Regions from separate parts of the Homo sapiens genome. Here region 2 is linked to region 1. Evidence: fine-mapped expression QTL. A gene starts in region 1. The other region holds a variant in brackets. All regions are shown on one strand. Distances are from middle to middle. Region 1 holds the start of NF1 (neurofibromin 1). Region 2 overlaps RAB11FIP4 (RAB11 family interacting protein 4).

Region 1 (16,408 bases):
TTCTTTTCTTTACTTTCAACCAATGCACACTGGCTGATTTTTTTTTTATTTGTTTTTTTTACTTTTTGTAGAGATGGGGTCTCACTCTGTTGCCCAGGCTGGTCTCAAACTCTGAGGCCCAAGTGATCCTCCCACCTCAGCCCCCCAAAAAGCTTGAATTATAGGCATGAGCCACCGCACCCAGCCAAAACATTTTTTAAAAGCAGACTTAAGGCCAGGTGCAGTGGCTTGCATCTGTAATCCCAGCACTTTGGGAGGCTGAGGCAGGTGTTTGAGGCCAGCCTGGCCAACATGGCAAAACCCCGTCTATAGTAAAAATACAAAAATAGGGCCAGGCACGGTGGTTCAAGCCTGTGATCCCAGCACTTTGGGAGGCTGAAGCGGGCGGATCACCTCAGGTCAGGAGTTCAAGACCAGCCTAGCCAACATGGTAAAACCCTGCCTCTACTAAAAATACAAAAAAATTAGCTGGGTGTGGTGGCACACGCCTGTAATCCCAGCTACTTGGGAGGCTGAGGCAGGAGAATCACTTGAACCCGGGAGGCAGAGGTTGCAGTGAGCCAAAATTGTACCACTACACTCCAGCCTAGGCGAGAAAGCGAGAACTTGTCTCAAAATAATAATAATAATAAAGCAGATTTGAGAAAAGAATCTAATTTCCTAATGGTTAAAAAGTCAAATAAAAAGAGTAGGGCAAAAAACAGGAACATTTAAAATAAAATGTAACAATATTAGACCAGCACCACAGCTTATGCCTATAATCCCAGCACTTTGGGAGGCTGAGGCAGGTGGATTGTTTGAGGTCAGTAGTTTGAGACCAGCTAACATGGCGAACCCTTGTCTCTTTTAAAAATACAAAAATTAGCCAGGTGTGGTAGTACGTGCCTGTAATGCCAGCTACTTGGGAGGCTGAGGCAGGAGAATCGCTTGAACCCAGAAGGTGGAGCTTGCAGTGAGCTGAGATCGTGCCACTGCACTCCAACCTGGGCAATAGAGCGAGACTCTATCTCAAAAAAAAAAAAATGAAGAAGAAGAAAAAAGAGAACTTGTCAATGGATACTAAAGTAAGGTATATATTGGCCAAGGTACATACAAAGGAATATCCAGAGACTAGTCACGCTCTCTTTTTTTTTTTTTGGAAGACAGGGTCTCACTCTGTCACCGAAGCTGGAGTACAGTGGCACAATCATGGCTCACTGTATGCTTGAACTCCTGGGTTCAAGTGATCTTCCTGCCTCAGCCTCCTGAGTAGCTGCGACTACAGGCACATGCCACCACACCCAACTAATTTTTTTTAGAGACAGCATCTCACTATGTTGCACAGCCTGGTCTTGAATTCAAGGCCTCAAGCAGTCCTCCCACATGGGCCTCCCAAAGTGCTGGGATTACAAGCATCAGCTACCGCACCTGGCCTACTCTCCCTTATTTAATGAAAACACAATAATCAGTAATAAGCTACACTGCACTCTAGCCTGAGTGACAGAGCAAGACTCTGTCACACACACAAAAAATAATAATAATAATAAGCTATAAAGAAAACATATAAATCTTATATTAGAAAAATTTTAGACTTTTCAAAGTGCTTCACATTCATATTCTATCACACCATTGCAAAATATCCTAACAGTAAGTGACAAATCCAAAATTACAAAAGTAGTTGATCAGATCTGAAACCTGATTCAAAAAACATGTTTGCTCTATGGGAGGAAATATAAATATGTATAAATTCCTTCTTTATGCTAATTTTCTTACTCATTCCTAGTTAAAATATCACTTATCAGACCTAGGCTATTGCAAACATGGAAGTAAAATTCAGTAAAACAAAGCCAAAAGTACCACTTTTTTTATTTAGCCAGTCTACCCTTCAACCAGGAATCATATGAAAAACATTCCATCAATGTTCTGTGTGTTTAAGACTGTGCTGGGCACTGGGGTGACTAGAAGAGAATTCAAATAGCGTTCTTTGCTTTTCAGAAAGTATGCACTCCATTTGATAAAAAGACAAGAAAAAAAGAAAACAAAGCCAAGCTGTGTTCAAACAATCCTCCTAAAGGAAGAAAACTTACTGTGTGGTTCTGTAAAACTCCAGGTAACAAGGATACCAAGAAGTGAGATAGCAGAGTTTAGTCTGAAACAACCTCATGGGGAAAAAAAAAAAATGAAATCTGAGCTGAACATTGAAGGATGGACAGGAATTAGAAAAGCACAAAGGAGGAATTAAAGCATTCAGGCAGAGACTGGCAGAAATAAAGGCCAAGAAGTGGGAAGAAGCATGATACACACAGAAGAGACTGAGGTGACCTGCCTGGAACATAGGTGCATGCAGAGGCATAATGGGAAAGAGTTTGGTAAATCAAGTGGGGTCAGCTCCCAATAGACTGCTGGGTCACAGAGACATGCTGTTAGAATATTAAAATCATCGAATATTTAAACTTGAAAGAATCTAAAAGATTTTCTAGCCATTTCTTTTTCAACAGATGAGGAAATCAAGGATCTATAGGAAAGCTAATGGCTAGGATAGGGACAAAGGCACTGAATAGCAGAACAAAACTAAGACCCCCGCTAAGGAACTCCAATTCAGTAGAAAAGTATTGTGTCTTGGGAACTGGAAGAGATTGGTTTCCGGGGGGAGTGGAACATCACAGTGGCATTACAACTAAGCAATGACCACTATGTTTTGCCAGAAGTAATCACTTTCAAGAAAACAGCAATCAAGCAGAGGCAGGAGCTACTTTTCAGAGTTATAAAGGAAATGGGTGGATAAACAGTAGAGGCGGTGAGTATCTGGCAACAACAACAACAAAAAAGACTGGTCCACAGAGAGAGAGCTGCAGGACCAAGTAAACGTCTGATTTCCAAGAGAAAGGAAATCTTAGCCTGAAAAGTGAAAAGAAAGCAGCCAACATAAAGACTAAATTAGTTCCCAGACAGATAAGGTGGAAAGTGTAAGGGAGTGCAGAGAACTGAGGAACAGCTGGAAGAAATCTTTCTAAAGGATGAATTCCGGGCCGGGCACGGTGGCTCATGCCTGTAATCCCAGCACTTTGGGAAGTCAAGGCAGGTGGATCACGACATCAAGAAATTCAGACCCATCCTGGCTAGCACGGTGAAACCCTGTCTCTACTAAAAATACAAAATTAGCTGGGCGTGGTGGCATGCGCCTGTAGTCCCAGCTACTTGGGAGGCTGAGGCAGGAGAATCGCTTGAACCCAGGAGGCAGACGTTGCAGTGAGCTGAGATCGCGCCACTGCACTCCAGCCTGGGCGACAGAGTGAGACTCCATCTCAAAATAAATAAATAAATAAAAATTTAAAATAACAATAATAATAAATTAAAAAATTCCGAAGCAAAGAATAAGCATTATTGTGCTCGATTCAGCACCACATATACTAAAATTGGAAGAATAAGCATTATTTCTCACTCACCATAAAGAATTCGTCACCATAAAAGAGTACTCATTTTCAACTACTATAAGGCCTTATAAAAATTACACACCAGGCTTGAAGAATGAGGCTAGGAGATATTTTTTAAATCCAAAAAGCTTCAGTTTTGCAAATCTATTTGTCTAATCAGTATGTGGTTTGTAATTTCGAAGATACTTGCCAATCATTTTATACTGTGAATCACTCACCGCATATTCAACGTACATTCAGATGAACACTCAATGTATGAGAACAACAAATATGCTACTACAACCTCTAAAATCAGAGTTTATTCCATAACATATTCTTTAAATTGGGTTTTTTGGCTTTTATGTACTACTTTTGCTTGATCAGATATGGAAAATATAATTGCTTTAAATGAACATATTTACAACAAATCATTTTGGGATGGAGTTCTTTTTAATTCTTTTTTTTTTTTTTTTAGTTCAAATATCCATAGTTTTCCCATACTTCCCTTCAGAAATAAAGCTCTACAGGAACCAGTGGGGCATACAGAACTAGGGGAGATACACAGAAGGTTCTAATTTGCTTAGAAACTGGGTTAATGAACCACAATTAAAAGCTACACATGGCCGGGCGTGGTGGCTCACGCCTGTAATCCCAGCACTTTGGGAGGCCAAGGCAGGTGGATCACCTGAAGCCAGGAGTTGGAGACCAGCCTGGCCAACACGGTGAAACCCCCGTCTCTACTAAAAATACAAAAATTAGGCAGGCGTGGTGGTGGGCGCCTGTAATCCCAGCTACTTGGGAGGCTGAGGCAGGAGAATGGCTTGAACCCAGGAGGCAGAGGTTGCAGTATGCTGAGATCTCCCCATTGCACTCCAGCCTAGGAGACAAGAGCGAAACTCTGTCTCAAAAAAAAAAAAAAAAAAGCTACACACCTACAATTTGTCAGTTTCAATTAGAAACTTGCTATTTGGCACCACGAAGGCAGGTTAAGGAGAGATGTAAGATTTAACTGATAACATTCAGCTTTCTGGCTGTCCACCTGTGCAACTGTCATTTCCCTAACCAAGGAGGTGATTACTTCTAAAATTGGTAATACTCATTCAACTTAGACCCTAAATACTAGGTTTAGCTGCAATATTATCAGGTTAAGGAATTTTATATTACCCACAAGAATGTGAGCTCAAAATGTCAATATGGCACACATCCACTTCTTTTAACTGAGTCTACTGCACTAAGTTGCTAAGCGATACCCATCAGAGTGCAATATGTCTGTAATCAGCAGTGGCTAGAAATGCATTTCTGCTTTAATCACACCGAATATTAGAAATCCAACCAAAACAGCAATCATAAACAGAGTTGCCATCTTTAGACATGCACATGCTCCCTGGGGGCGTTAAGTGGTCCAACAGGCAAACTCTTAGCTGTAATAAGAAGGAAAGCTTAACTCCCCCTGGGCCCAGTAAAGCAAAGTACAGATAATATAATCCAAAATTCAAAAGTTTTATAAACAGTTGAAACTATTAAGATTCTTTTTTTTTTTTTTTTTTTCTGAGATGGAGTCTCGCTCTGTCACCCAGGCTGGAGTGCAGTGGCGCAATCTCGGCTCACCGCAAGCTCCACCTCCCAGGTTCAGGCCATTCTCCTGCCTCAGCCTCCCAAGTAGCTGGGACTACAGGCACCCACCACCACACCCAGCTAATTTTTGTATTTTTAGTAGAGATGGGGTTTCACTGTGTTAGCCAGGATGGTCTCGATCTCCTGACCTCATGATCGGCCCGCCTCGGCCTCCCAAAGTGCTGGGATCACAGGCGTGAGCCGCCGCGCCCGGCCAACTCTTAAGATTCTTATACAACTATCTCTCAGTACATGCAGGGCTTTTTCTCCCCTCAATAAAAATGTAAGCGATGGCTCACGCCTGTAATCTCAGCACTCTACTAAAAATAACAAATGTTATCCAGGAGTGGTGGCAGGCGCCTGTAATCCCAGCCACTTGGGAGGCTGAGGCAGGAGAATCACTTGAACCCAGGAGGCAGAGGTTGCAGTAAGCCAAGGTCGCATCATTGCACTCCAGCCTAGGCAAGAATCATGAAACTCCGTCTCAAAAATAAAAAAAATAAAATAAAGTCTTCTAAATATATTTAATGGATTAGAACAAATTTTATGGGATACTTAGGAAAAGTATCTCCCTGATGGTCAAGCATTCACTACTTTTCATACTGAAGCTCTTATTAGATCTATGTCACTTAACCTTCCCATGCCTCAGTTTTCTGACTAAAAGACATTTTCAACCGTAAGGTGAACTCTAATTTGAATTAAACATTTATCACTTATATAATAAATTAATATATTAATTTATTTTATATATATACTATATATAATATATATAAGTACCTTATGTTAAACACTGAAAACCCTTACATTTTTGTATCTCAAGGTCAGAGACTTTAACTTTCTAAGAGAAAAATGTGAGGAATAGGCCAGGCACAGTGGCTCATGCCTGTAATCCCAGCACTTCGGGAGGCCGAGCAGGGGGTGGGGGGCAGATCACCTGAGGTCAGGAGTTCAAGACCAGCCTGACCAACATGGTGAAACCCCCGTCTCTACTAAAAATACAAAAATTAGCCAGGCACGATGGTGCACACCTGTAATCCCAGCTACTTGGGAGACTGAAGCAGGAGAATCACGTGAATGTGGGAAGCAGGGGTTGCAATGAACCGACATCAAGCTACTGCACTCCAGCGTGGGCGACAGAGCAAGACCTTGTCTCAAAAAAAAAAAGTGAGGAATAATCTCTCCTATATATCTTTCTCTTAATTACAACATAAGGAATGCAGAAAAATGCTGTTTTAAAAACTAATGTCCTTAATTTTTAACAGATGGTGGTGAGTTTGATTCCACAATATGCATAACAAACAACGAAGCCTTAAGGTCTTTTAAAGCTAGGGACAGAAGGAGAAACACTTTCTTGCTTTACTGGGTATATAATCAAAATCATTCCTCCTTTTTTTTTTTTTTTTTTTTTGGAGACAAGAGTCTCGCTCTGTCGCCCAGGCTAGAGTGCAGTGGTGTGATCTCAGCTCACTGCAACCTCCACCTCCCGGATTCAAGCAATTCTCCTGCCTCAGCCTCCCGAGTAGCTGGGATTACAGGCGCCCGCCACCATGCCCAGCTAATTTTTGTATTTTTAGTAGAGACGAGGTTTCTCCATGTTGGTCAGGCTGGTCTCAAACTCCTGACCTCAGGTGATCCACCTGCCTTGGCATCCCAAAGTGCTGGGATTACAGGCGTGAGCCACCGCGCCCAGCCCAAAATCATTCCTCTCTTAAGTATCTTTTTCCAATATGGCAAATAAGCCTAGAGATGAACAGGTAAGAAGTAAAAAAATAAAATTAAGAAAAAACTGAAAAAAATTTTTAATTTTTAAAATTTAAGGAGAATTGCGGCGTGGATCCTTCAATTTCCTACATCCAGATTCTGCTGTCCACAAGGTTCAGCTTTGGAAGTCTTCTATGTGCCTTTTAAATCCTTTCTTAAAATTACAGAGTCTTTTCTACCAAGTTTTAAATCTAACGCTCTATCAATAATGTAATCTTTTATATGCAGTAACATTATACTTCAGATGGATTAGTAGTTTAGTTTAGATGCCTTTGGGTCTGGAAGCATACGAATGGATAAAACAATTCCTTCAAGTCTCTGACAGCTTCATAACTCTATTTTATCTACATAGCTTCTTCTCAACTTCCTCTGTCTATTCCAAGATATTTTCCAGGTAGGTCTGAAACGCTGAGTCCCGTAAAGAAATGTTTATGCATCAAATAACAGAAGAGCTCTTCCCCCACCCCTTCAGCTCCCATAATGTTTTACCATTATATCCAGTAAACAAAATAGGTTGACTCAATCTTAAACAATTCCCCCATCACAGGAAGCCCACTGCACCCACAGCTGCAGAAAGCATCCCTTAAACCATCCCCAACTACCTACAGCAACACAAAGTTAAACCAATTTCCACTGACAAAAGGCTATGTGTGCATTTATTCTAATCAGCCCCAGGATTTATTGTGTGAAACTCAGGCGATAAAAAGTCACCTCCTCAAGCTACAAAACTTTTTTTTCATCCCAAATATTCTCAATGAAAGTTCTCTTGTCAACCAGGAGAGAGTCAAAAACAACCACAAACACTAGCAGAATGATCCGCTCCAGGACCACATCCCAGCTGGCTTTGCTCTGTTGTCGGTGGCTCTGAAGCAGTTTCTCACTTTCCTTTCACCCTTCTCCCCTTTACTCCCCAACATTCTCACTCGAGAATGCATCACATCCTCAGACCGCTGGCAAAAAAAAAAGGGGGGGGGGAAGAGACTGCAATTATCAAGGAAGGGGAAGATATTTCAGAACCACGGTTTCCACTGCAAACGGCAATAAAAAAAAAAGGCAGTCTGTGTCATCAGGATATGGGGGACGACGTTGTAGGGCATCACAAAGATGTGCAGTGAGTGTGCACTTGAAGCTCTCGGGGCAGGATGAGACGATGGAGCAGAAAGTAAGAAAACCTGTGCCTTCCTTGCTTTCTTCTGCTCTTCCCCCTCCAGGAGAGGAAGCTGAAGAAACTGGGGGAGGGGCGGAATGTTATCGTTCTCCTATTGAGGGTATATAAGACAGGCCTTAGGGTTCGCTCGTCCCCAGTTAGGAGGGTCACGGAGGGAAGAGGAAGAGAGAACCCCTAAACGTTACCCACCTCTGCTCAAAAACAAAAGTAAGGGGGTAATTATTAAATCCAGATGGCGCGCCCCTAAAGGCGCCCCCAGGTCACTCATCCCCATTTCCAAGCGGAAGGGCTGGGATAAAGGGGATGGAGGGTCGGAGGCTGGTCAGGGACAAGGCCCCACCCCCCGACTTAGGAGGGAAAGGGTGCCCAAGCTCCCAGCTGTCCCCTCCTACCCCTCACCTCCCGCCTTGGCCACCCCCACTTATCCCCCCTTCCCTTCTCTTCCCTTCCCTTCCTTTCCTCCAGAGCCTGAGGCAGCCGCGGGGGAGGCGGCCGCTCCTACCTCCCCTCACCTACTCTGTCCCCACCCCCACTCCGCTCCCACCTCCCGCCCGCCACGGGCCGGTTACCTGCTCGTCGAAGCGGCTGACCACGGCCTGGACCCATTCCACCGGCCTGTGCGCGGCCATGTCCTCCCCGCGGCCGGGGGGCGGCGGAGGGAAGGGTGGGCCGGCGCCCTGGGCCGGGAAGAGGGCGGGGAGCGGAGGCTGAGGTGAGGGAAGAGGCAAGGAGAGGGTCTGTGGAGTGCAGGCTCCCAGTGTTCCCACGGGGGTGGGGATGGGGGGTCAGCGCCGAGCGGGAGGGGGAGAGGGAAAGGGGGCGTTGGCAAGGAGGCTGGGGGGAGGGGGATAGGGGAAGGGGACCCGGGGAGGGGAGGGGGCCTCTTGGTCGCTCTCCCCACTAGCGCCGTCTCCCCACAGCCATCACAGTCCGAGACGCCGCCATGACACCCCACCGGAAGTGGGATCCTTTCCACGGCCCGGGGAGAGGGAGCGCGAGCGAGCTAGAGATTGAGAGCGCGGCTGGGAAAGGGGAGGGGGAAGCGAGAGGGAAGGCGGCCTGCCGCGCATGCGCCCGCGCCGGCCGGTTTCATTAATGAAAAAGCGAGTCCTCCTGGAGGTGACGTCATCTAACTCCTCTGGGCCGTCTGGCGAGCGTCCCTCACCGCCGTGGGGCTCACCTAGACTGGCGCTGGGCTCAGCTGGCGAGTGCCAGAGCTGACCCGGGAGCATCCACTCCCATCCCCACCGCCCCCTACAGCTGTCCCCTCCCCCGCCGGCCTCCGGGTTTGGATTGCTCCCGGAGTTGGAAGTTAGGGCGCCCTGGGGCTAGCCTTTCTCCCAGCGCGCGGATCTCTGCCGCTAATCTCCTGGGGAGGCTGTGCTCTCAGCTTAAGCTCTCAGAAAAAATAAGGTACACGACCTCCGATTTTCAGGTTCTTCGTAGCTTGGTAGACTGCTGAGAAACAAAAAAGGAAGGCCAAAGAGAGATTCCGTGATTTTTTTTTTTTAGAGGTCGCTTAAATCCCAATGCTAGACCCGGTGGCAATCAAGGTCTAGCCACCAGGTCTAGCATTGGGATTTAAGCCCAGCTTTCCTCTGCAAAACTCATAGCCATCCAAGTTAATATAACTATTGCACAGTTGATGAGAGATTCAAGTTTCACCACCCTCAAAACACCTTTAAGGCCTTGCATTCATTATTAATTCAATATATTCATCGTCTTATTTAAATCCTTGAACAAACCTTTTCAATACATATCATTAACTTCATGAACTGATGAATACGTCACGTCCCCACCCCCGTGGGAACGCTGGGAGCCTGCACTCCTCCCTCAGACCTTTGATTTGCCCAAGGTCTGAGTTGACAGGTGGCAAAGTCAGGATGTAAACCAACGTGGTTTAACTCCTAGAACAATAGAGGTAGACTATGGGTCTCCTAAAACAAAGTCCTTCCCTATACCTCCAATACCAGAGTTGAAAGGATTTCATGTGTAATTGGGTTGTGCCAGTTTTCCAGGAAGAGGATTACATCCAAAACAACGGATAATCTATGTCTGACATTGGACTTTGGAATGACTAATTTTTTTTTTTTTTTTTTAAGACAGAGTCTCACCCTGTCACCCAGGCTGGAGTGCAGAGGCGCGATCTCGGCTCACTGCAACCTCCGCCTCCCGGTTGAAGTGATTCTTCTGCCTCAGCCTCCCGAGTAGCTGGGACTACAGGCATGCGCCACCACAGCCGGCTAATTTTTGTATTTTTAGTAGAGACGGTGTTTCACCATATTGGCCAGGCTGGTCTTGAACTCCTGACCTCATGATCCGCCCACCTCAGCCTCCCAAAGTACTGGGATTACAGGTGTGAGCCACCGCACCTGGCCTGGAATGAGTAATTTTAAAATTTGTCTTCCTCGATACATTTTACCTAGGCAAATGTTTTTGTTTTTCAGAGACAAGGTCTGACTCTGTGCAGTGGAGTGCAGTGGCTCAATCATAGCTCACTCCAGCCTCAGACTCCTGGGCCGAAGTGATCCTCCCACCTCAAGCTCCTGAATAGCTGGGACTACAGGTGAGTGTCACCCTGCTTTGGCTAATTTTTTTTTTTTTTTTTTTTTTGGTAGAGACACAGTCTTGCTATGTTGCCCAGGCTGGTCTGGAACTCCTGGCCTCAAGTGATCCCCCTGCCTTGGCCTCCCAAAGTGCTGGGATGACAGGGGTGAGCTACCACACAGGCCCCTAGGCCAATGTTAAAATGAATTTACACATTCCAAGCACGCGCTAATCAGCCAGTTAAGCCACACAGACACTGGGTGATAAGGGAGAACAAAACTAGAATTTTAATTTTCCTACAGAAAAGCCACAAAGCCAGTAGCCCACATACAGAGAGATATATCCTTGAGAAAAGTTTCCAATCTCTAGGTTGGTGGTTGTCCAAAATACATATTAAATTAATGTTTTATTCCACTAGAACAGACAGACAGTTTGGACATGTCTTTTGTCCCTTCTTCTTTAAGGATGCAATGCAGATACTAATTTCTTTTAGATGATGTCAGAATGATGACTATGCTGGAAAGAAATGGATGAATATTAAATGAATGTCTATCTATGTTTCTCCCAAGTAGGACCCCTGAAAAAGCACTCACTCATACCCCCAAGATAGTATTCCAGTGCCCCCTACTGCACTGCTAAACTTCAGACCTATGACCTTCCTCTCCTTTTCTCATACTTCCTCTGAAAGTCCCTAACTACTTCCTTGTTGCCATGGCTTTTTGCCTGTCTATCTCCCTGATCTTCTTCCCTACACTGGATGCAACTGCCCAAACCCTCAGCTCCCTTGCCTTCCCTGGCATTCCGTTGCTGAAGTTCCTCTGTGCCTTTCTCTCCTCTTCTTCTCTAGTTTAGTCTACCATTGCCCACTCTTCTTTAGCTCTGTGGTAAGACACCCAAACTTCAGGCCCTGGCCCTCTGCTCTTCTTCCTTTACTCAAGCTCCTGCCAGCATGTCATTAATTCATCCTAATTTGTACTCCCTGTTCTGTTGCCTCCCCTCAGTGCCAAACCTCTCATTATAGTCAGAGGCCTAGACTTCACCCCAACTTCCTCTCCAATTAAATTCATTCAGTTCTGCTGAACCAGTATTAAGTGTCCAAATGGGCCGGTCGTGGTGGCTCACACCTATAATGCCAGCACTTTTAGAGGCCGAGGTGGGAGGATTGCTTGAGCCTAGAAGTTCAGACCAGCCTGGGCAACATAGTGAGATCCCAGCTTCTACCAAAAAAAATTATTTAAATTAGTTAGGCATAGTGGTGTGCATCTGTGGTCCCAGCAACTTGGGAGGCTGAGGTGGGAGGATCACTTGAGCTAGAGAGGTCAAGGCTGCAGTGAGCTGTGATCTCGCCACTGCACTCCAGCCTAGGCAACAGAGCAAGACCCTGTCTCTAAAAAATAAATAAAAATAAAAGTACCCAAATGCCTGTTATGTATTATGTACTTTGTTAGACCATACATAGTACATATGGCAGGAATGCTAAACAAAAGTGCCAAAGAAGACTGGACGCTGTGGCTCATGCCTGTAATCCCAGCACTTTGGGAGGCCGAGGCAGGCAGATCACCTGAGGTCAGGAGTTTGAGACCAGCCTGGCCAATGTGGTGAAACTCCATCTCTACTAAAAAAAAAAAAAAAAAAAAAAAAAAGCCGGGCATGGTGGCACATGGCTGTAATCCCAACTACTTACTAGGGTGACTGAGGCAGGAGAATTGCTTGAACCCAGGAGGCTGAGGTTTCAGTGAGCCTAGATTGTGCTGCTGCAATCCAGCCTGGGCGACAGAGTGACTCCATCTCAAAAAAAAAATGCCAAAGAAGGTAATGCATAGAGACTGTGGTGAATTAAGAAGCATATACCCACCTCCATTTATCCAGATAAGAGATACTCTCTCCATTTAAAGAGTATCTGTCACTCAACTCCAGTTACTGCCATGCAGGAATGTTGACCCAGTGTTGCTAGATCTTCTAGTTACTCAAGAGAAGCTAGAGATCTGAACTTACATATAAACTCTTCCAATTTTTACATAGTGGCAGCCAATTTACATTTTTTAAATGCTGTGTAGCCAAACAAAATACGTCTGCTGTCTGAATGTAGCCCATGGAACACCAGTTTGACCAGCACTAGTCTAGTGAAAAGGCATGAGCCTTACAGTAGAACAGAATTAGATTTGTATCCTAACTTCCCCCATTTTGCACTGTCCAACAGTATTCAGGGAACCCTTAGTGTTTCGTATTGTTTTAAATGCATCTCTCTCATTCAGCCTCTGTTTTTTGGTCAGGCAACAAGCTCTGCCAATTTTTTCTTCGAAGAGTTTTGTTCCAAGCTGGGAGCCGTGGCTCATGCCTGTCATCCCAGCACTTTGGGAGGCCAAGGTGGGTGGATCACTTGAGCCCAGGAGTTCCAGACCACCCTGGGCAACATGGCGAAACCTCATCTCTACAAAATTTTTTTTTTTAATTAGCTGGGCATGGTGGCATGTGCCTGTGGTTCCAGTTACTTGGGAAGCTGAAGTGGGAGGATCGCTTGAGCCCAGGAGGTCAAGGCTACAGTGAGCTGTGATGGTGTCATTGCATTCCAGCACTCCAGCCCGGGCATCAGAGTTAGACCTTGTCTTAAAAAATAAATAAATGAATAAATATAAATAAAAAATAAAAAGCTTTTACAGTAGTATTCCCTTCATTCTGCCCACCACCCCCATCTCCACTGGCACAACCAACCATCCCAGCATACCAAAGAGCACACCACTCTTCAGGACTAAGGTGCTCATTTCCTCAGCTGCTGGGCGCATTACTTGTCAACACCTATCAGCTAAATCCCTTTCCAGGAGTTGCCTTCAGCTGAAGAAAGCTGCCTCTCACCAGGTCCGTCTGCACTGACTGGCAGATGCAGGGCTCAGGGTGGGGCTGCTCTGAAGGGCTCTCCTGGCACCAGAGCTCCCTTAGGATCCGGAAGCTGAGGCATTTGCTGTAACTACATTTAGTTCAACTTTTTCTGCTCAATCCTACTCCTTTCCTGCACGGTGTTGATTCCAAGGGCAATTAAATCCATGAGTGTGGCCGGACACCATGGCTCAGACCTGTAATCCCAGCACTTTAGGAGCTGAGGCAGGTGGATCGCGTGAGCCCAAGAGTTCAAGACCAGCCTGACCAACATGGTAAAATCGTATCTTTACAAAAAATAAAAAAATTTGCTGGACATGGCGGTGAGCAGCTGTCATCTCAGCTACTCAGGAGGCTGAAGCTGGAGGATTGCTTGATCCCAGGAGGTAGAGGCTGCAGTGAGCCATGTTTGTACCACTGCACTCCAGGCTGGGTGACAGAGCAAGACCCTGTCTCAAAACAAACGGACAAAAACGTCCCATGAATGTGGTTTGATCCAGTGGAGCTGAATCATTCCCCTGGCCAGTTAGCAGTAAGGTCCACAGGGGAAGCCCTGACAGGCCCCGGCGTGCCATAGCAGTACGATGTTAAAACTTTCAGCAATGGTGAAGAGCTGGAATGGGTGGGATGTAACCTCAGTGGAACAATGCACTCGTAGGTGCAATCTATCAGGCATTTTAACAATATAGGGCAAATAGTAGTTTAAGAACAATGAAATTGGATGGCTACTGATGGAGTAAACCTGTGCTTTGGAGAAAGACAATGAAAGGTTGAGGATGATGAATCACCAATTAAAGGCTAAGGAAGAAAGCCAGTGTGCCTCCTTAGCAGCATATAAAGGAAGTAGGAGCTGCATAAGGCAGAAAAAGCGGAAGATGAAGCTCAGGATTTAATTATAAGAGCAGAAGAACGCCAAAAAGGTTTTCAGCCCTAGTGAGTGTACTATACCAAGGTCAGGGGCATAGTTGAGAAGTGGGACCCTGACACTTTAGATGGGGCATCTGGGTCAATGCACTTGAGAACCTTAAAACCCCACATCACCTTGAGTGCTCTGGGTTTGTAGAAGTGTCCCACTCCTCCCTCAAGAAACTAGCACCCCACCCCCTTGCTTGAAGATCAAGAAGTATTATCTGCCTTGCAAGGCAACACACGCTCTCCTCAGATCTACCTGCACTTTTCCACCTGTCTAACAGACCAATAACTAAGGTCAAGTCACACATAACCCCATTAAGAAAATGCTAGACCTGCTAAGGGAGGAGAGGCACTGTATCCTGAAGGAGCTAAAAAACCTACCCAACTTAGGCCGGGTGCGGTGGCTCATGCCTATAATCCCAACACTTTGGGAGACCGAGGTGGGTGGATCACAAGGTCAGGAGATCGAGACCATCCTGGCTAACATGGTGAAACCCTGTCTCTACTAAAAATAAAAAAATAAAAAATTAGCCGGGTGTGATGGCGGGCGCCTGTAGTCCCAGCTACTCTGGAGGCTGAGGCAGGAGAATGGTGTGAACCCAGGAGGCGGGCCTTGCAGTGAGCCGAGATCGGGCCACTGCACTCCAGCCTGGGTGACAGAGAGAGACTCCTCTGAAAAAAAACCTACCCAACTTATATACACATCTGCAGAAGGTGGGAGAACTGGGTAAAGGGTCCCCAGTGTGCTGAATTGGGGAGGGAGGAGAAAATAATGCTAAATAAAGCAGAGCATATTGATATAAGCACATTCCTGTACTACAGTATTTACATTCTGGCAAGGACTCCAGGAGATAAAGCTAACAGATTGCTAGGATGGCTCTAGAAAGCTTGGAGAAAGCAGTGGTCCACACTAAGCAAAATAGAAAGGCCAGAGCTGTCCTGGCAAACAATGGAAGAAGGGAGCAAAAGACTCAGAAGTGGGAATGACATATTATTTACATCCTATCCTGTCAGCTGTGTTCTGCTGTTTATCACAAGCAATAAGGAATGTGCTATTGAGAGGGACACAAGCATCACTGAGAAGTCCAATAGTCACTTTTCTCTGTAGACCAGGGCTTATAGTGGAAGATGTTTCAGGAGCTAGGGTCCCTGATAGCAATGGGCCTGCTAGAGACCAGGTAGCAGTGCATAACTAGCAGAAGATTAAGTGGCATTGTTAGAAGTGGCAAGATAGAATGGCATCCAAGGAAGCCTGACCCACAGGAAGCTATGAAGGTAGTTAGTAGGATACTGTGTGCCTCAAGATGTAGTTTTTAAAACACAAGGACAGATAAGGAGGCAGCTGAGAGGAGCTGCCCCAATAGTCATAATCCCTTGCCCTGTTTCTCAACCTGAGCCAATTTCCAGAACCTAATGACTGAGGAAGACCGGATTCCCAGCAAGGGTATATAGTGATGAGTCCTTGTCCTCTCTGAATGGGTACTTAGCATGGGCATACTTGGTGGTTGGCAGAACCTCTATGATAGTTCCTTGGCCTGTGGAGCAAGAGCTGTCATAGTGGGGAAGGCCAAGGCCATACCTGGGGAAGCTTCTAAAACTGCACCCCTCTCACCCAGCCAACAGTCGACATTTTTAAAAAGTGGCATACCCTGGGGGAACATCAGAGAAAAGGATGCAAATACAGAGTAGCAGGGCTCCCACTCAACAAGGCTGATCCAGCTGCTGATGCCACCAAATGCCCAACCTGCCAGCAACAGCACAGATCTTTTGTCATTTACTCTTTATTCTTTTTCCTGCTGAGAACGTAGATCAAAGCCTAGAAGTGAAGCAGCTATTTTGCAAAAGATGGAAGCTAAAGGAAGCTTGGGTCCCTGATACTTCTTCAAGCAGCTGTACCTGCCCTGAACTGCCTACCTCCAGAGTTCTGGTTACAGAAAGAAAAATAAAACCTCTGTTTTGTGAAGTATGTGCATCCAGGTTTCAGTTCCATGCAGCTGAATGTAACCCTAACTGACCCCCACAGATACTGAGAAAAGTAAAGAAAGAGGGGCTTTAAGCAGCTGCTGAATGGAGACCTAAAGGCATAGAAAGAGAGGTGATTTTCAGAAGTGTTACTGTGGGTTGTAATTAGGAAAATATA
Region 2 (16,408 bases), 350 kb before region 1:
AACTCCTGGGCTCAAGCAATCCATCCACCTTGGCCTCCCAAAGTGTTGGAATTACAGGCGTGAGCCACCGTGCCCAGCCTCTCCCCAAGTTTAAATGAACATTTTGCCCCCAGGGCCAGTCAGGTAGGCCTATACCTGTACTCCTGAAACCAAAGCTTGGAAACCTCTCGGTAATGCCTCCCAGTTCCCCGCGGGGTCAGCTGCCCCATCCCACACTAGGGCAATGAACTGGGCCTGACTTCCAGCAGGGGCAACATCCCCCAGGAGTCTGCCTGAATAAGAGGTGCACAGAGAGGAAACAGCAATGCCAGAAGCAAGTGGCTGAGCACAGTTCCTGGCAGAGAATCCGTCTTGTCTGTCACAGTAACAGAAATGTGGAGACAGAAACCTAGCAGGCCTCACCACATGCGGAGGTGACAGTGACTGCTACAAATAACACTTGCTGCTGGATGGAGGGAGGAGGGGCAGAGGAGGCAATGAAGGGACCCCTCTGGCTCTTTCCGCGTGGTCCCATGGCATGTAGGGGGAAAGATGGCACAGGACCTGCAAGTTACAAAAGCGCTGCTAGAGAGATCTGAGGTCAGCAGCACCACCATTGCTGATGAGCAGGCTAGGAACGCAGACCCAGGCCTGTGAACCAGAATCTGCATTTTCTTAAGATCAGTGATTGACACGCACAGGAAAGCGAGAGAGCCCAGCTGCAGAGTCTCAGAGAATCCAGGCACCCCCTTTCTAATCCCCCAGAGCACTGAGGCAGGGCATGATTTTTACAGCCTTTGAGCTGGTCCTCGGAGACTCCTAGGTGGGAGCCCATCCCTCCCTGACAAAGAGTCAACATTCCACATCTGAGATTCATCCATCTGCTTGTGCAACAAATCTGCACCAACAGCCTCTCTATGCCAGGCACTGTGCAGCAGTGAATGACACTGGCAAAGCCCTGGACCCACGGAGCTTACAGGCCAGTGGGGGATGACAGGACACACATAGATGATCAAGACTGTGCCAAACAAGATACAGTTGGAGAGAAGAAATAAGTTCTAGTATTTGCTAGTACAGCAGGGAAATTATAGTTAATAATTTCTTGTATCTTTCAAAAAGCTAGAAGAATTGTAATGTTCCCAACACAAAGACAAAGGTTTGAGGTAATGGATATCCCAGTTACCCTGATTTGATCATTACACAACATATGCAGTTATCGAAATATCACATGTATCCCAAAAACATGTATCACTATTACACAGCCATTAAAAAAACATGCAGCTAACAGTGGTGCATACTCAAGGAAATAAGCAGGGTGCTCTGGCAGTGATGGGGGCAGGGTGGGGAGGGAGTTTCTTGAGAGGGTGGTGGGGGAAGGCTTCTCTGAGGAGGTGACATTTGTGCTGAAACCTGAAGGGCACAAGGGCAGCTGTGCAAAGATTTGGGGGACAAGGGTTCTAGGTGAAGGGGAAGCCAGGCAAAGGCCCTGTGCAGAACTCGCTTGGGCAGTTTGAGGAACAGAAAACAGGTCAGGGTGGCTGAACAGTGAGAGTCACCGGGAATCTGGGAGGGGCAAGGTCAAAGATTCAGGCAAAAGTGAAACCTTCGAGGCCACAGTGGGAAGTCAGGGTTTTGGATTTTGTCACTGGAGGCTCTTATGCAAGGGAGAGGAGGATGGGACTTACAATTTTTTTTTTTTTTTTTTTTTTTGAGATGGAGTCTCGCTCTGTTGCCCAGGCTGGAGTGTAGTGGCGCCATCTCGGCTCACTGCAACCTCCGCCTCCCGGGTTTAAGTGATTCTTCTGCCTCAGCCTCCTGAGTAGCTGGGATTACAGGCGCCTGCCACCATGGCCAGCTAATTTTTGTATTCTTAGTAGAGACGGGGTTTCACCATGTTGGCCAAGCTGGTCTCGAACTCCTGACCTCAGGTGATCCACCTGCCTCAGCCTCCAAAAGTGCTGGGATTATAGGTGTGAGCCACCATGCCCAGCCACTAGGAGTTACAAGTTTTAAAGAACACTCCGGTGTCATATGGACCACAAAAAACAAGAGAGAATGCAGGCCATCGGGGCACAGGTACAGGGTGCGGCTCTGCTGGGACTGGGGTGTAACCTCCAAGGTGGAGGGAAGTGGATGGCTCGGGACATAGTTTGGAGGTAAAACCATTAGGCTGTGATGATGGGTTGGATGTGGAAGGAGGAAAGAAATTAAGGATGACTTGATCCTTGGTCAGAGTGACCAGGTAGGGGAGGTGGTGCCATTTACTGAGATGGGGAGCCTGGGGAAACATTCTTGGGGCTGAGGGGACGGAGCTGGATCAGATCAAAGGGTGTAGCCTGGAACATGGTGGAAATGCAGAGGGTGCGCCACAGGTTTGACAGAAGAGACTGGAGCCGAAGGCAATGTCGGAGGGGAAAATACTATCTTGGGAGCCCTCAGGGTAATGGTGCTTTTAGAGTTCTGGGACCAACCAGCTCCCCTGGGGAGTGGGCAGGCAGGAAGCATAGGGGTGAGGACGAGGCCTGAGACCCAGCGCCATTTAAAGGGACCCAGGAGGAGGGCGGGCAAGGCTGAGGTGGACAGATCACTTGAGGCCAGGAGATCGAGACCAGCCTGGGCAACATGGTGAAACCCCATCTCTACCAAAAATATGCAAATTAGCCGGGTGTGATGGCGCCGTCCTATAATCCCAGCTACTTGGGAGGCTGAGGCAGGAGAATCGCTTGAACCCCGGAGGCGGAGGTTGCAGTGAGCTGAGATCACGCCACTGCACTCCAACCTGGGTGACAGAGGGAGACTCTGTCTCAATAATAATAATAATAATAATAATAATAATAATAATAATAAAGCCGGTGGCGGGGGGGTGGTGTGCGGGGAGAAAAGCAGCCTGAGAGGTAGGAGGAAGGCTTGAGCTAAAAGGACGATCTGAGAAGGGAGAGGTTGGCTGTGCCAGGCCCTGCCCAGGGTTCCAGTAAAATGTGAATGGAGCAGAGGACACTAGAGGCTGAGAATGGCAGGGGAAGGAGAGTAGGGAGACGTTTGTTAAAAGTACAGAGTTACAGTTCTAGAGGAGGGATAAGTTCCATTGTTCTACATCACTGTAAGATGACTATCATTAACAATAATACAGAGTTTTCAGTAGCTAGGAGACTATCGAGTGTTCCCAAAATGAAGAAATGATAAATGCCGGAGATGGTGGATATGCTAATTACCCTGATCTATTCACCACACACCATCACTATGTAAAAATGTGACTAGAGAACTGATGCTTGGATTTGGCCAGTGAGAAGTTCCTGGTGGCCAGGCAAGGTGGCTCATGCCTGCCATACCAGCACTTTGGGGGTCTGAGATTGGAGGATTGCTTGAGGCCAGGAGTTTGAGGCTGCAGCAAACTAGGACTGCACTACTGCACTCCAGCCTGGGGAACAGAACAAGACCCCCATCTCTACAAAAAATAAAAATAGCTGGGGATGATGGCAGATGCCTGTGGTCCCAGCTACCTGGGAGACTGAGGTGGGAGGATTGCTTGAACCCAGGTGTTGGAGGCTGCAGTGAGTCAGGACTGCACCACTGCACTCCAGCCTGGGTGACAGAGTGAGACCCCTGTCTCAAAAAGAAGTCCCTGGTGACTGTGAGAAGTGTTTCAGCAGAACAGAGGGGCCAAGACATCATTGGGAGTGGCAACAGAGAGAAAGGGAGGCAAGAAAGGGAGTTGAGACCAGTCTTTGGAGGAAATAGACCAAAGGAAAGAAAGCCAGGATGTGTGGTCAAGCGGGTGCTTCCCTGCCCATGGGAAGGGCATTATTATGTCAGCTCCAGAAGCGAATGGAAAGGACCCAGCAGGGGCGTGGTGCGGGTGCTGTGGGTGAGGGGCTGTTTGTGAAGGCGAGTGCTTGAGTTGGCAGGAGGGGCTGGGATCCAGTGTTCAGGCGGTGTGCGGGTGAGGAGCTGGGATTGGAGGGCATGGCCTGTGTCAGAGCAGGGTCATGCCACTCACCATCCCAGCAGCAAGCTGAAAGTGTGGGTGCAGGTGGAGGCAGGCTGGTGACTTTGGGAATGGGAAGGGGAGGGAATTCTGTCCCCTGTGTCCTGAATGATTCCCCTGAGGGTTCTGAGTGGTACAGAGAATGCAGGCATAGGTACTACTGACTGGGGGACCTGTCTCCTCAGGAACCTTTAGAAACATTAATCCATTGCATTCTCACCACAACACTGAAAATCAGGCTGACGACTCTGATTTTAGATAGGCAGAAATGAAAAAGGCTCAGAGAGGTGAAGCGACTTGCCAAATGACACACAGAAAGTGGTCAAGCAGAACCCACACTCAGCCCGTTTGACTCAAACCTGAGCTCTTTCCAGGATTCTGAGCAACCTGGGTGAGAATTTGCAGTGTCTGGAGGATCTGGTCAGAAGGATTCTTACAGGTTCAGGGCAGCCCCAGACAAAGAGGGCTGGAATCAGGCCTCCTTGAGGCCAGCCTTGAGAGGAGGCAAAATTACATCATTCCTGGAGCCTGCCCATGGAGCTCATTCCAGGCCTCAGCCACGCGGGGTCAAATTTCCTCATTTCTCCCTCCCAGTGAAGACCTGTTTTGTTACTAAAATGAACACTGCATTTACTTTATTACAAGAAAACAGGGCTAGGAGAGGTTGCTCATGACTGTAATCCCAGTGCCTTGGGAGGCCCAGCTGGGAGACTTGCTTGAGGCCAGGAGTTTGAGACCATCCTGGGCAACATAGCTAGACCCGGTCTCTGCCAAAAAAAAAAAAAAAAAAATTAGCTGGATGTGGTGGTATGAGCCTGTGGTCCCAGCTACTGAGGAGGCTGAGGTGGGAGGATTGCTTGAGCCTGGGAGGTTGAGGCTGCAGTGACTGCACTCCAGCCTGAGTAACAGAGCAAGACTTTGTTTCTTAAAAAAAAGAAAAGGAAAACAAAATAGCAATAACAGTAATACCTTACATAAAGCGGCCCCACAGCAGAAGATGGACATGGGTCTACAGTAGAAGTGGGACTCGAAAGAGCAGCCTCTAAAGCAAAACAATTTAAAAAGTCTTTCCCGCAGGGCGCGGTGGCTTACACCTGTAATCCTAGCATTTTGGGAGGCCGAGACAGGTGGATCGCTTCAGCCCGGGAGCTCAAGACCAACCAGGGTAACATAGTGAGACCCTGTCTCTCCAAAAATCCAAAAATTAGCTGGGTGCATGCCTGTAGTCCCAGCTACTCAAGAGGCTGAGGCAGGAGGATTGCTTGAGCCTGGGAGGTGGAGGTTGCAGTGAGCTGAGATCGCGCCACTGCACTCCAACCCGGGTGCTAGAGTGAGATCCTGTCTCAAAAATAAAATACAGCAGTTGGGCGCGGTGGCTTGTGCCTGTAATCCCAGCAATTTGGGAGGTGGAGGTGGGCAGATCACCTGAGGTCAGGAGTTCGAGACCAGCCTGGCCAACATGGTGAAACCCCGTCTCTATTAAAAATACAAAAATTTGCTGGGCATGGGGGTGCGCGTGTGTAATCCCAGCTACTTGGGAGGCTGACACAGGAGAATCGCTTGAACCCGGGAGGCGGAGGTTGCAGTGAGCCAAGATCGTACTATTGCACTCCAGCCTGGGCAATGAGTGAAACTCCATCTCAAAAAAATAAATAAATAAAATAAAGTAAAATAAAATTGATAAAAGTCTTTCTCATTATCTTTATTTTACTTTATTTTTTGAGATGAGATCTTGCTCTGTTGCCCAGGCTGGAGTGCTGTCGCACAAACGGCTCACTGTAGCCTCAATCTCCTGGGCTTAAGCAATCCTCCTGCCTCAGCCTCCCAAGTAGCTGGGACACACAGGTGCTTGCCACCAAGCCCAGCTAATTTTTGTCTTGTTTTGTTTTGTTTTGTTTGAGACGGAGTCTCACGCTCTGTGGCCCAGGTTGGAGTGCAGTGGCACAATCTCGGCTCATTGCAAGCTCCACCTCCCGGGTTCACGCCATTCTCCTGCCTCAGCCTCCCGAGTAGCTGGGACTACAGGCGCCCACCACCACGCCCGGCTAATTTTTTGTATTTTTAGTGGAGACGGGGTTTCACCGTGTTAGCCAGGATGGTCTCGATCTCCTGACCTCGTGATCCGCCCGCCTTGGCCTCCCAAAGTACTGGGATTACAGGCGAGAGCCACGGCACCCGCCTGTCTTTTTTGTATTAATAGATATGGGGGTCTCACTTTGCTGTCCAAGCTGGTCTTGAACTCCTAGCCTCAAGGGATCCTCCAGCCTGGGCCTCTCAAAGTGCTGGGATTACAGGCTTCTTTCTTATCTTCAAAATATGTTTATTATGTTCCATGTTTGTTTTAATGTTGGACAATGTTTTCTCCAATTCTTCCAGGCAATCTGCTGCTCCAGGAAGATGCCCCCTGGTGTCCCAGCAAGTGGCTGGTATCTCCCTCGGGCACAGGTACCCGGAGAAGCACCGTCCAGTGTATCTTAGGGGCTTGGATTTCTTCCCCACATTATCTCAGATAATCCCCCCAAAGACGTGGGGGGGGTCTTTTCTAGTTTTCTCTTGAGATTGCCCCTCTCAGGAGACAAATACACCTACTCCAATGTCCTAATCTCAGCCCAAAGAGGATGGAGATGTGGCCTGGTCATGTATAAGAGCCCACACCTCCTAACACTGTACCCAGTGTACAGTGTTCATCGCACAGACGTTACCCATCGCACAGACGTTCAATGGCCCATGGCGTGTTCCTGGAGCCAGAAAGTACCAAGGCCGGCTGCCTCCCCACAATTTGAGAGATGCCAAGGGTGGACGCTCGGCCGCACACACACAATTAGGCATTTATTTTTCCCCAAATGCCAGAAGGGACAGAAGCTGCAAGGGGTGTTTAGATCATGTTTCAGCTGGGAAAACTGAGGCCCACTGAGTGGGTGCCAACAATATGCATTTTAAATGTGTTTTAGACTTGAAAAATAAACACAGTAGAACTCCCCTCCTGGCCCCCTCCTCGCCACACCATTTTATTTTTAATTTAAATTTAAGTTGCAGTACCCCAAAGGACCAGAAAATCAATAAAGGCAAATCTAAATTGAGGGGCATTCTTCGAAGCAAGTGGCCTGAAGTTTTTAAAAAGGTCAATGTCATTAGGAGTAAAAAAAAAGAAAAAAATAGAAAGAAAGAAAAGAAAAAAAAAGCCAAGGAACTCTTCTAGATTAAAGGAAACTAAAGAAACATGGCAACTAAACTACTGTGTGATCCTGTATTAGATTTGAGATAAAAATAAAAGCTATAAAAATATTATTGGGATGGCTGGGTGCGGTGGCTCACACCTGTAATCCCAGCACTTTGGGAGGCCGAGGTGGGTGGATCACGAGGTCAGGAGTTCAAGACCAGCCTGGCCAACATGGTAAAACCCAGTCTCTACTAAAAATACAAAAAAAAAATTAGCCGGGAGTGGTGGCATGCACCTGTAATCCCAGCTACTCGGGAGGCTGAGGCAGGAGAATCGTTTGAACCCAGGAGGCGGAGGTTGCGGTGAGCGGAGATCACGCCATTGCACTCCAGCCTGGGTGACAGAGCAAGACTCCGTGTCAAAAAAAAAAAAAAAAAAAAAAAAATATATATATATATATATATATATATATATATATATATATATATATAAAATTGGGAAAATTTGAATGTAGATTTTACAATAGGTAACAAATTGTGCCAATGTTAAGTTTCCTGCAAGTCATAACTATATTGTGGTCACATAGGAGAGTGTCCTTCTTAGGAATGGCCAAGTATTTAAGGATGAAGTGTCATGTCCGCAACTAACTTTCAAATGGTCCAGAAAAAAAGTAGTATGTATGCACATGCACCCCACCAACAAACACAGGGGCAGAGAAACTCAGTTTAGCAGCATGTTAACAGCTGTCATCCAAGCAAAGGATATATGTGGATTCATTGTTCTGCTCTTTTCTGAAGGTTGAAAATTTTCAAAATAAAAAGTTGGAGACCAAGTCAACTCTCTAGGTCTTTGTTTAGTAAAAGTGATCTACTCTTTATTCTTGCACCATCTGCAGCAGGAGCTTGGGCCCTCAGAGGTTTATAAACTGGATGGTGAGTTTAGAATCTCCACTGATATCCCAGTTCAGCCTCTGACACATGAAGCACCATAGGCCCTGCTAACCCAGAGTCCCCACTGGTTTCGACCGTGCTTTCTCGGAGAACATCTGCCCTCATGTGATTGTGTTTGTGTGTTTCCCACAGTTACTGTTTCAAAAATGCACTGCACTAGACTCATTAATGAGGGAAGCAGCAGGTAGGGATAACTCATCCAAAGGAGAAGGGGAGGGATCAAAGTCTATGTAATCAGGGAAAGAAAGGATGCTGAAATGAGACTGGAAAGGTATATACGAAGGTGGTTAATGTCCTACAGGTTCATAAAACCCAAATTTTTCCCTCCTGCTCAGCTTTAAAAAGACGGGATGTAAGGAGCCTCTCCAAGGTTTTGTCAAGCTCTAACTTGGTGAGTAGGTTCTAAAGATACATGTGGACTTGGGCGTCAGGGTTGGGTTAGGCAGGAGGTGGCCCGTGGGAAGTAGCACTTGCTGGCCAGCTCAGCTTAGCGTCTCTAGGGTAGGGATGGTCAGGGGTAGGAGGTAGAAGACACACGGTCCAGGGCAGACCAGGCTGAGGCAACGAACAAAAGGGGCTTCCATATCTGCACTGCTTCCATCCCCGCCACCTTTGGCTTAATCAGAGTTGAGTTATTTCCCAAAGACACAAATCGAGGATCTTACAGAAGCTCTGAGGCTTGGGATAAGTAGATTTTTTTTTCTCTTTAGAAGGGTG[G/TG]GGGGGGTGTTGAAACATAGAAAAATATATTGGGGCCAGATATAAGTAGAAAGGCTGCTTCCCTGGGCTCTGAAACTCCCTCCTGCCACCACACCAGTGGGAGCATGGCACCCCACCCACACCTCCACCAGCACAGTGAATCACAGTGCTGTTTGTCAGGAAAAGTATTTTTAGAACTTATAAGTGCCATTGTCATGAGTGGTTTTAGAAATGCTTGTTTCAGGATGGATGAAATGAAGCGAGGGTGGGCTTAGATGTTCAGGCTGTAGGCCTCCTCCCCAGCAAGTTCTAGAGAGAGGCACAGGTTATCATCATTTTAAAAACTTCCAGGAAGACAAGGGTTTGGCAAAGCCCCTTCTGAATATGAGCAAAAGAGCCAATTTGGGCTCAGGCTCAGGTCTGGGTTCCCAGCAAACCCCATTTCTTTTCTTCTTTTCTTTTTTAGATAGGGTCTTGCTCTGTTGCCCAGCCTGGAGTGCAGTGGCACAATCTCTGCTGGCTGCAACCTCTGCCTTCTGGGTTCAAGTGATTCTTGTGCCTCAGCCTCCCAAGTAGCTGGGATTACAGGCATGCCCCATCATGCCAGGCTAATTTTTTTCTTTTTTTTTCAGTAAAGATGGGGTTTCGCCATGTTGGCCAAGCTGGTCTTGAACTCCTGGCCTCAAGTGATCTGCCCACCTCGGCCTCTCAAAGTGCTGGGATTCCAGGCCTGAGCCACTGCACCGGGCAAACCTCACTTCCTTTGCCATCAGGGGACTGCGTGCGTAAGCATAGCCTAGCAAGAAGCTGCTGGTTCCAGCCAGGTGAGGGAGGGCAAGAGGAACTGACAGGAAAAAGGCAAACTGGATCCCTACCTCACTCTAGACATCAGTCAATTCTACGAATTAAAAATCAAATACACAAAAATAAAACAGAACAGTTTCACAATCTTGGGCGGGAAAGCATTTATAAGCATTACACCAAAGGCTGAAGCCATAAAGGAAAAGAATGATGAATTGGCTATAAAAATTTTTAAATTTGGTATCATGAACAAAGTTAAAAATAAATAACAAGCTGGAAAAAATTTAATGTATGTCAAAAAGTTATATTTCTGGTTCTTAAAAAATACTCAATAGAAGTAAACATAGCCAGGGTGGAGAATGTCGACAGGCAATTCATGAAGAACGCCCTCTTAGTGACCAAAAAATGTACTTTAAGAAGTTAAACTGTATTATAATTCAAAAGAGGGGTTCTAATTTTAGCCTCTCAAATTTAAAGGATCTGAAAACTCAGCAACACCAGTATCAAAAGGGTAGCAGGAATCTGACGCAATCCTGATGGGATTCCTGCAGAGGAATTTGGCAGATTAGTATTAGGCAGTTTTAATATTTTGCATCCTTTTCTTTTTTTTTTTTTTTGAGACAGAGTCTCACTCTGTTGCCCAGGCTGGAGTGCAATGGCACGATCTCAGCTCACTGCAACCTCCGCCTCTTGGGTTCAAGGGATTCTCCTGCCTCAGCCTCCCGAGAGGCTGGGATTACAGGCATGCGCTATCACGCCTGGCTAATTTTTGTATTTTTAGTAGAGACGGGGTTTCACCACGTTGGTCAGGCTGGTCTCAAACTCCTGACCTCAGGTGATCCACCTGCCTCCACTTCCCAAAGTGCTGGGATTACAGGCATGAGCCACCGCGCCCAGCCTTTGCATCCTTTTCATAAAACAGTTTCCACTTGCCTGAATTTACCGTCTGGGTTGGCAAATTTTTTCTGTAAAGGGCAGACAGTAAATATTCTAAGCTTTGCAGTCCATTTGGCCTCTGTGGCAGCTTTTCAGCTCTGCCACTGTAGTGTGAAAACAGCCACAGATAAGATGTGAACAAATGGGTGTGGCTGTGTTCCAGTAAAACTTTATTTACAATAACAAGCTCCTAGATTTGGCTCGTGGGGTCTGTAATTTGCCAACCTCTGATTTACTTTAAAGCAACGATTGCTGCTGTGGGGAAATACTTAGCTATAAGAATGATTATTACACTGCTTTTGTTCATTCCCCAAATTACGTTAAAAATATATATATACACCTGGCTGGGCATGGTGGCTCACGCCTGTAATCCCAGCACTTTGGGAGGCCGAGGCAGGTGGATCACGAGGTCAGGAGATCGAGACCATCCTGGCTAACAGAGTGAAACCCTGTCTCTACTAAAAATACAAAAAAATTAGCCAGGCGTGGTGGCGGGCACCTGTAGTCCCAGCTACTTGGGAGGCTGAGGCAGGAGAATGGCGTGAACCCAGGAGGCGGAGCTTGCGGTGAGCCGAGATTGCACCACTGCACTCCAGCCTGGGCGACAGAGTGAGACTCCGTCTCAAAAAAAAAAAAAGTGTATATACGCCCAACAATAAGAAACTGGTATATAAATTTGGTTGTCTTCATGTGATGAAATATCATGTTGCCATTTAAAATTTAAAATGGCAGCATGGCTACCTTGTTATATAGAATTAAGCATGATAGAAAATAGCATATAAATAAACTATTAAATATAAAGAGAGTTTAATGGGCCAGGCATGGTGGCTCACACCTCTAATCCTAGCACCTTGGGAAGCCAAAGCAGGCAGATCACCTGAGGTCAGGAGTTCGAGGCCAGCCTGGCCAACATAGTGAAACCCCGTCTCTACTAAAAATACAAAAATTAGCCAGGCATGGTCGTGGGCGCCTGTAATCTCAGCTACTCGAGAGGCTGAGGCAGGAGAATTGCTTGAACCCGGGAGGCAGAGATTGCAGTGAGCCGAGATCACACTGCTGCACTCCAGCCTGGGCAATAAGAGCAAGACCCTGTTTCAATAAATAAATAAATAAATAAATAAAATAAGGAGAGTTTAATAGGGTTATCATGACAAGATTAACACCAAAAATGAAAACCTATCCTATACATCAGTTGTAACCAGTTATAAAATATCATAGCAAAAAGATCCTACACATATCAGCACAAAAACTCCAAATATAGTCACCCTAAGAAGAAAGTGTGCATAACCTATTTAAGAAAATTATAAAACTTTCCGGCCAGATGCGGTGGCTCACACCTGTAATCCCAGCACTTTGGGAGGCCGAAGCAGGAGGATCACCTGAGGTCAGGAGTTTGAGACCAGCCTGGCCAACGTAGTAGAACCCCATCTCTACTGAAAATACAAAAAATTAGCCGGGCATGGTGGTGGGCACCTGTAGTCCCACCTACTAGGGAGGCTGAGGCAGGGGAATCGCTTGGACCTGGGAGGCAGAGGTTGCAGTGAGCAGAGATCCAGCCACTGCACTCCAGCCTGGGCAATAACAGCAAAACTCCATCTCAAAAAACCCAAAAAACCAAAAAAGAAAAACAACAGAAAACTTTCCTAGAGGGCATAAAAGGCCAGAATAAATGAAAAGATATATGCATTCCTGGATGACAGAATGCAATATTGTAAAGAAGCCAATTTCCTTCAATTAATGCACAAATTTAATTTCAAATATGATCTCCTACAGGATTTGCAATAGAGCTTGACAAAAAGGCTGTTCCAGAAAAGAAAATATGTAAGAATAACAAAAAAACAGTTTTTTTTATTTGTTTTTGTGTGTGTGTGTATGACAGAGTCTCACTTTGTCGCCAAGGCTTAAGCGCAATGGCGTGATCTCAGCTCACTGCAACCTCCGCCTCCCGGGTTCAAGTGATTCTCCTGCCTCAGCCTCCCAAGTAGCTGGGATTACAGACATGTGCCACCATGCCTGGTTAATTTTTGTATTTTTAGTAGAGATGGGGTTTCACCATGTTGGTCAGGCTGGTCTTGAACTCCTGACCTCGGGTGATCCACCTGCCTTGGCCTCCCAAAGTGCTGGGATTACAGGCATGAGCCACCGCACCTGGCCTTAAAGGTTAAAGAAACAAAGAAGGATGAGAGAGCCTTTCCCTATCAGATATCAAACTATAAACAAGAGTAACTGAAACTATGGTTTTGGCTTAAAAGTAGGTAGACAAACAGATCAATATAACAGACCAGAGTCCAGAAAGAGACCTACGTATATAAGGTAAGTTAGCATACAATAAAGATAAAATTTCAAATCAATTGAGAAAGAGGGACTATTCAACATTAGGAACTCAAAGTACTGGCCATATTGAGGAAGTAAGAGTGCCAGATCTCTACTCCCACCAAAAGCAAAAATAAGCTCCAGGTGGATAAAAGAGCTAAGCATAAATACTTCTTTTTCTCAAAAGTATCTGAAAACTATATATAGGAGAATATGTTTATAGCCTGGAGGTACAGAAGGCACAAAATGATACACAAAATGCAAATGGCATAAAAAGGTTGATAAATGATGACATCAGAATTAACATTCTGTGTAATAAAACACTCCTAAAACAAGATTAAAACACAAGCAAAATCCATAAAGATTGATAATCAGGATATATAGAGATTTCAACCTGTTGCTGTGGCTCACACCTGTAATCTCAGCACTTTGGGAGGCCGAGGTGGGCAGATCACCTGAGCACAGGAGTTCAAGACCAGCCTGAGCAACATGCAAAACCCTGTCTCTACCAAAAACAAAACAAACAAACAAACAAACAAAAAAACAAAAATTAGCTGGATGTGGTGGCGTGTGCCTGTGGTACCAGCTAATTGCGGGGCCGAGGCAGGTGGATCGCTTGAGCCCGGGAGGCAGAGGTTGCAGTGAGCTGAGATTGAGCCACTGCACTCCAGCCTGGGCAGTAGAGCGAGACTGCCTCAAAAAACAAACAAGCAAAAAACAGAATATACAGAGATTTCTTATAAATCAATAAGGAAAAGACAAACAACCATATCGAAAATGGGCAAAGAATATGAATAGCTAATTCGTAAAAGCAGAAATCCAGAGGGTATGGGAAGATAAGAAAAAGATGGTCCGCCTCCCTAGGAAGCTGGGCAGCACAGAGGACGGCAGCAATGGGCTTTCCTCCCCTCAGGCTGCTAGGCCGGAGACCAGCAGGTGGATGGATGGCTTCCGGGGTTGGCGAAGGCCATGGGGAAAGGGGCAATCTCATATAGTGCTTGGGTGATACAAATGGTACAGGCTTTGTGGAAGAAAATTTCATCCGTATCTGTTAAAAAACAAAATCTACATACCCTTTGACACAGCAATTCTGCTTCCAGATACCTAGTTCTAGAAATACTTAGAGACACACCCAAGGAGCATGGATAACGATGCTTGCTGTGGGTGCTGTCCTGGGGGTGAAAAGGAGGAGCTCAGCCTGAGCCCTGAAGCCACTGGGTGGACATGGGGCTGGCTGTCATGAAGGGTGAGGTTCAGGCAGTGGTAGAGGGTGAAGGGCCCCCAGGAAGCTCAGTGCAGGTCCTTCTCCTTTGGGCTGGGGCAGAAGGAGTCAGGGAGGCTTCCTGGAGGAGGCGGTACCTAAGTAAAAATTTTTTTTTTAAGAGAAGCAGTCTCACTATATTGTCCAGGCTGGTCTCAAACTCCTGGGCTCAAGTAATCCTCCCACCTCAGCCTCCCAAAGTGCTGGGATTACAGGCATGAGCCACCACTCCCGGCAAGTAAGTCTTAAAAAGGTGAGTAGACGTTAGCTCCTGACAAGGAAGCGGGAGGGAGGACATCCTAGGAGAAAGATAACACTCAGAGGCAAGAGAGAACATGGCTTTCTCAGGAAACGGGGAGCGGTTTGGTATCGCCAGTTTTAGGTGTGAGATGCACCATGGTGAGAGATGAGGCTAGAGTAGTGGGTAGGAGCTGATGTTGGTTTTCATCCCTTGGTAAGGACGGGTCCCAGGAGCGGGATGGGGGTGTGGAGAGAGGAAGGCTGAGGACAGGAGGACGCCCGGTCAGTGGGTGGCAGTGGCTGTGATGGAAGGGGGAGGCAGGGGTGAGTGGGGAACAGAGGACTCAAGGCAGCTGCATGAGGAGGCGCTGAGGATGACTCTCTGGGTTGGAGGCTACTGACACCATTTGCTGGCGTGGTGGCTACACAGGAGGGGCAGGTGGCTGGATGCCCTCTCCATTTCATCCACCATAGGGTGGATGAACAGGGCCCAGGGCCTTACAGCACTTGTAGGATTAGGGTTCACATTACTGCCTGCTGAGGGGTGACCACGGGCCCCTAGCAACTATCCCATTGCCTTTAGCACCCGAGTGTCGGGCTCTCCACGTGTCTCCATGCCCCCTCCCCACGGGGGCCCCTATAGCATATGGACTGGGGGCTGATGGGCAGCCTGAGCAGGACAGTCTCAGAGGGACTCCCAGGGCGATTCCAGGGACCCCATGCATGGACCCAGGGAACCTGGGGAGTCCTTCAGGACACACCTAACATTCCCTTTGACCAGAAGCAAATTTCCCTGGGTCAGGAAACTCTCTCAACAGCCTGCTCAACAGTTGGGGTTCCCAAGCCTCAAAGTTTCCCTCTGCCAGGGTCTCGCAGGGCTCTGGGGACGCAGGTGGAGCCACATCCAGTAAGGTCAGGAACTGGTGCATCCAGGCATCAACTGCCCGGGATAGACTTGCACTGGCCTGAGGTCTGGACAGCAACCCCAGGGGCCCCTGCTTGATGCCCAACGCTAGAGGCTTCTCGGGGCCTGGGAGGGGGTCAAGAAGGGCAGGGTGCTCTCAGGGGCCAGGTGGCAGCTGCTGGCCCACCAGCCAGCACTCAAGCATTCACTGCTTTAATTACGAGCCACATCCAGTGGTTAAGTCAGAGGTCTCCGTCCACACCCTGAGGGGAGGGGGCTGTGCCCGAAAAACAAGCTTCACCTCCCAACATACACGCATGGCACAGGGATGGAGCGCCTGCCATCCCATCTGTGTGTCATCCCCACACCTCCTCAAATCATGCCTCAGGTTTGCGTTCCCTGGGGGCATCTGGGAAGCCTACGTAGTGATCCAGGCACCCGCTTCTTCTCAGTCTCAGACTGACCCCTAGGGGACAGCTAAGACACAGCAGGGCGCAGAGAGCCGGGCCTGAGAAATTCGGACCTGCCCAGTCCAGCCCACTCTGACACCTCATCTGCAGAGCTGTGGTCTTGACCTTGCTATTACAGGAGCCTAAGCCAGGAAGAGGACTCATTCACAATCCAGAAGCCGTCTGCCCCGTCAGGCTGGTCTTCGGATTGTGCCCCCTTCCTCTCCCTGCCAACACGCAGAAGCCCATGGTAGGGAATGGAGTCCAGGTCAACCAAGCAGCCCCAGCGAGCATAATGAACAAGGCTGCCACTGTGTCCACAGCTACCGCCATCTCACTAGGCTCTGGCCAACCAAGCCGGGGCCAGACCTCCATGGAGGGCAGAAAGGAGTTCACCCACGAGAAGCTTAAAATCCAAAGCATTGGGAGGCCGAGGCGGGTGGATCATGAGGTCAGGAGATCGAGACCATCCTGGCTAACATGGTGAAACCCCATCTCTACTAAAAATACAAAAAAAAATTAGCTGGGCATGGTGGCGGGCACCTGTAGTCCCAGCTACTCAGGAGGCTGAGGCAGGAGAATGGCATGAACCCGGGAGGCGGAGCTTGCAGTGAACCGAGATTGCACCACTGCACTCCAGCCTGGGCGATAGAGCAAGATGCCGTCTCAAAAAACAAAAAAAACAAAAAAAACAAAAAACAAAAAAAAACAAAAAAAAAACAAAAAACAAAACC

Evidence for each region.
Region 2: its variant is fine-mapped to the expression of NF1 in whole blood (TOPMed, PIP above 0.99).

What each region holds. Positions count from the first base shown.
Region 1 is chr17:31,087,466-31,103,873 of GRCh38, reverse strand. It overlaps NF1 (neurofibromin 1), which reads right to left and starts at 8,897. Exons shown (of 58, transcript NM_001042492.3): 1 at 8,505-8,897. The coding sequence starts at 8,564. It overlaps MIR4733HG (MIR4733 host gene), which reads left to right and starts at 8,384. Exons shown (of 4, transcript NR_186435.1): 1 at 8,384-8,647; 2 at 10,383-10,501; 3 at 12,756-12,849; 4 at 12,939-13,132. It overlaps MIR4733 (microRNA 4733), which reads left to right and starts at 9,449; the gene lies at 9,449-9,524. LOC124903974 (a long non-coding RNA gene) reads right to left here and starts at 12,239. Exons shown (of 2, transcript XR_007065704.1): 1 at 12,167-12,239; 2 at 10,747-10,998. RefSeq lists silencers at 30-211, 8,493-8,542, 8,583-8,652, cis regulatory regions at 8,508-8,818, 9,045-9,284, an enhancer at 8,887-8,904 and a promoter at 8,892-9,317.
Region 2 is chr17:31,436,740-31,453,147 of GRCh38, reverse strand. All of the region lies in intron 3 of RAB11FIP4 (RAB11 family interacting protein 4), which reads right to left. Among named protein-coding and RNA genes, the nearest start is that of RAB11FIP4, 53 kb to the right of the region's middle. RefSeq lists an enhancer at 15,504-15,613. The variant G/TG (reference allele first, on the strand shown) is at 8,792.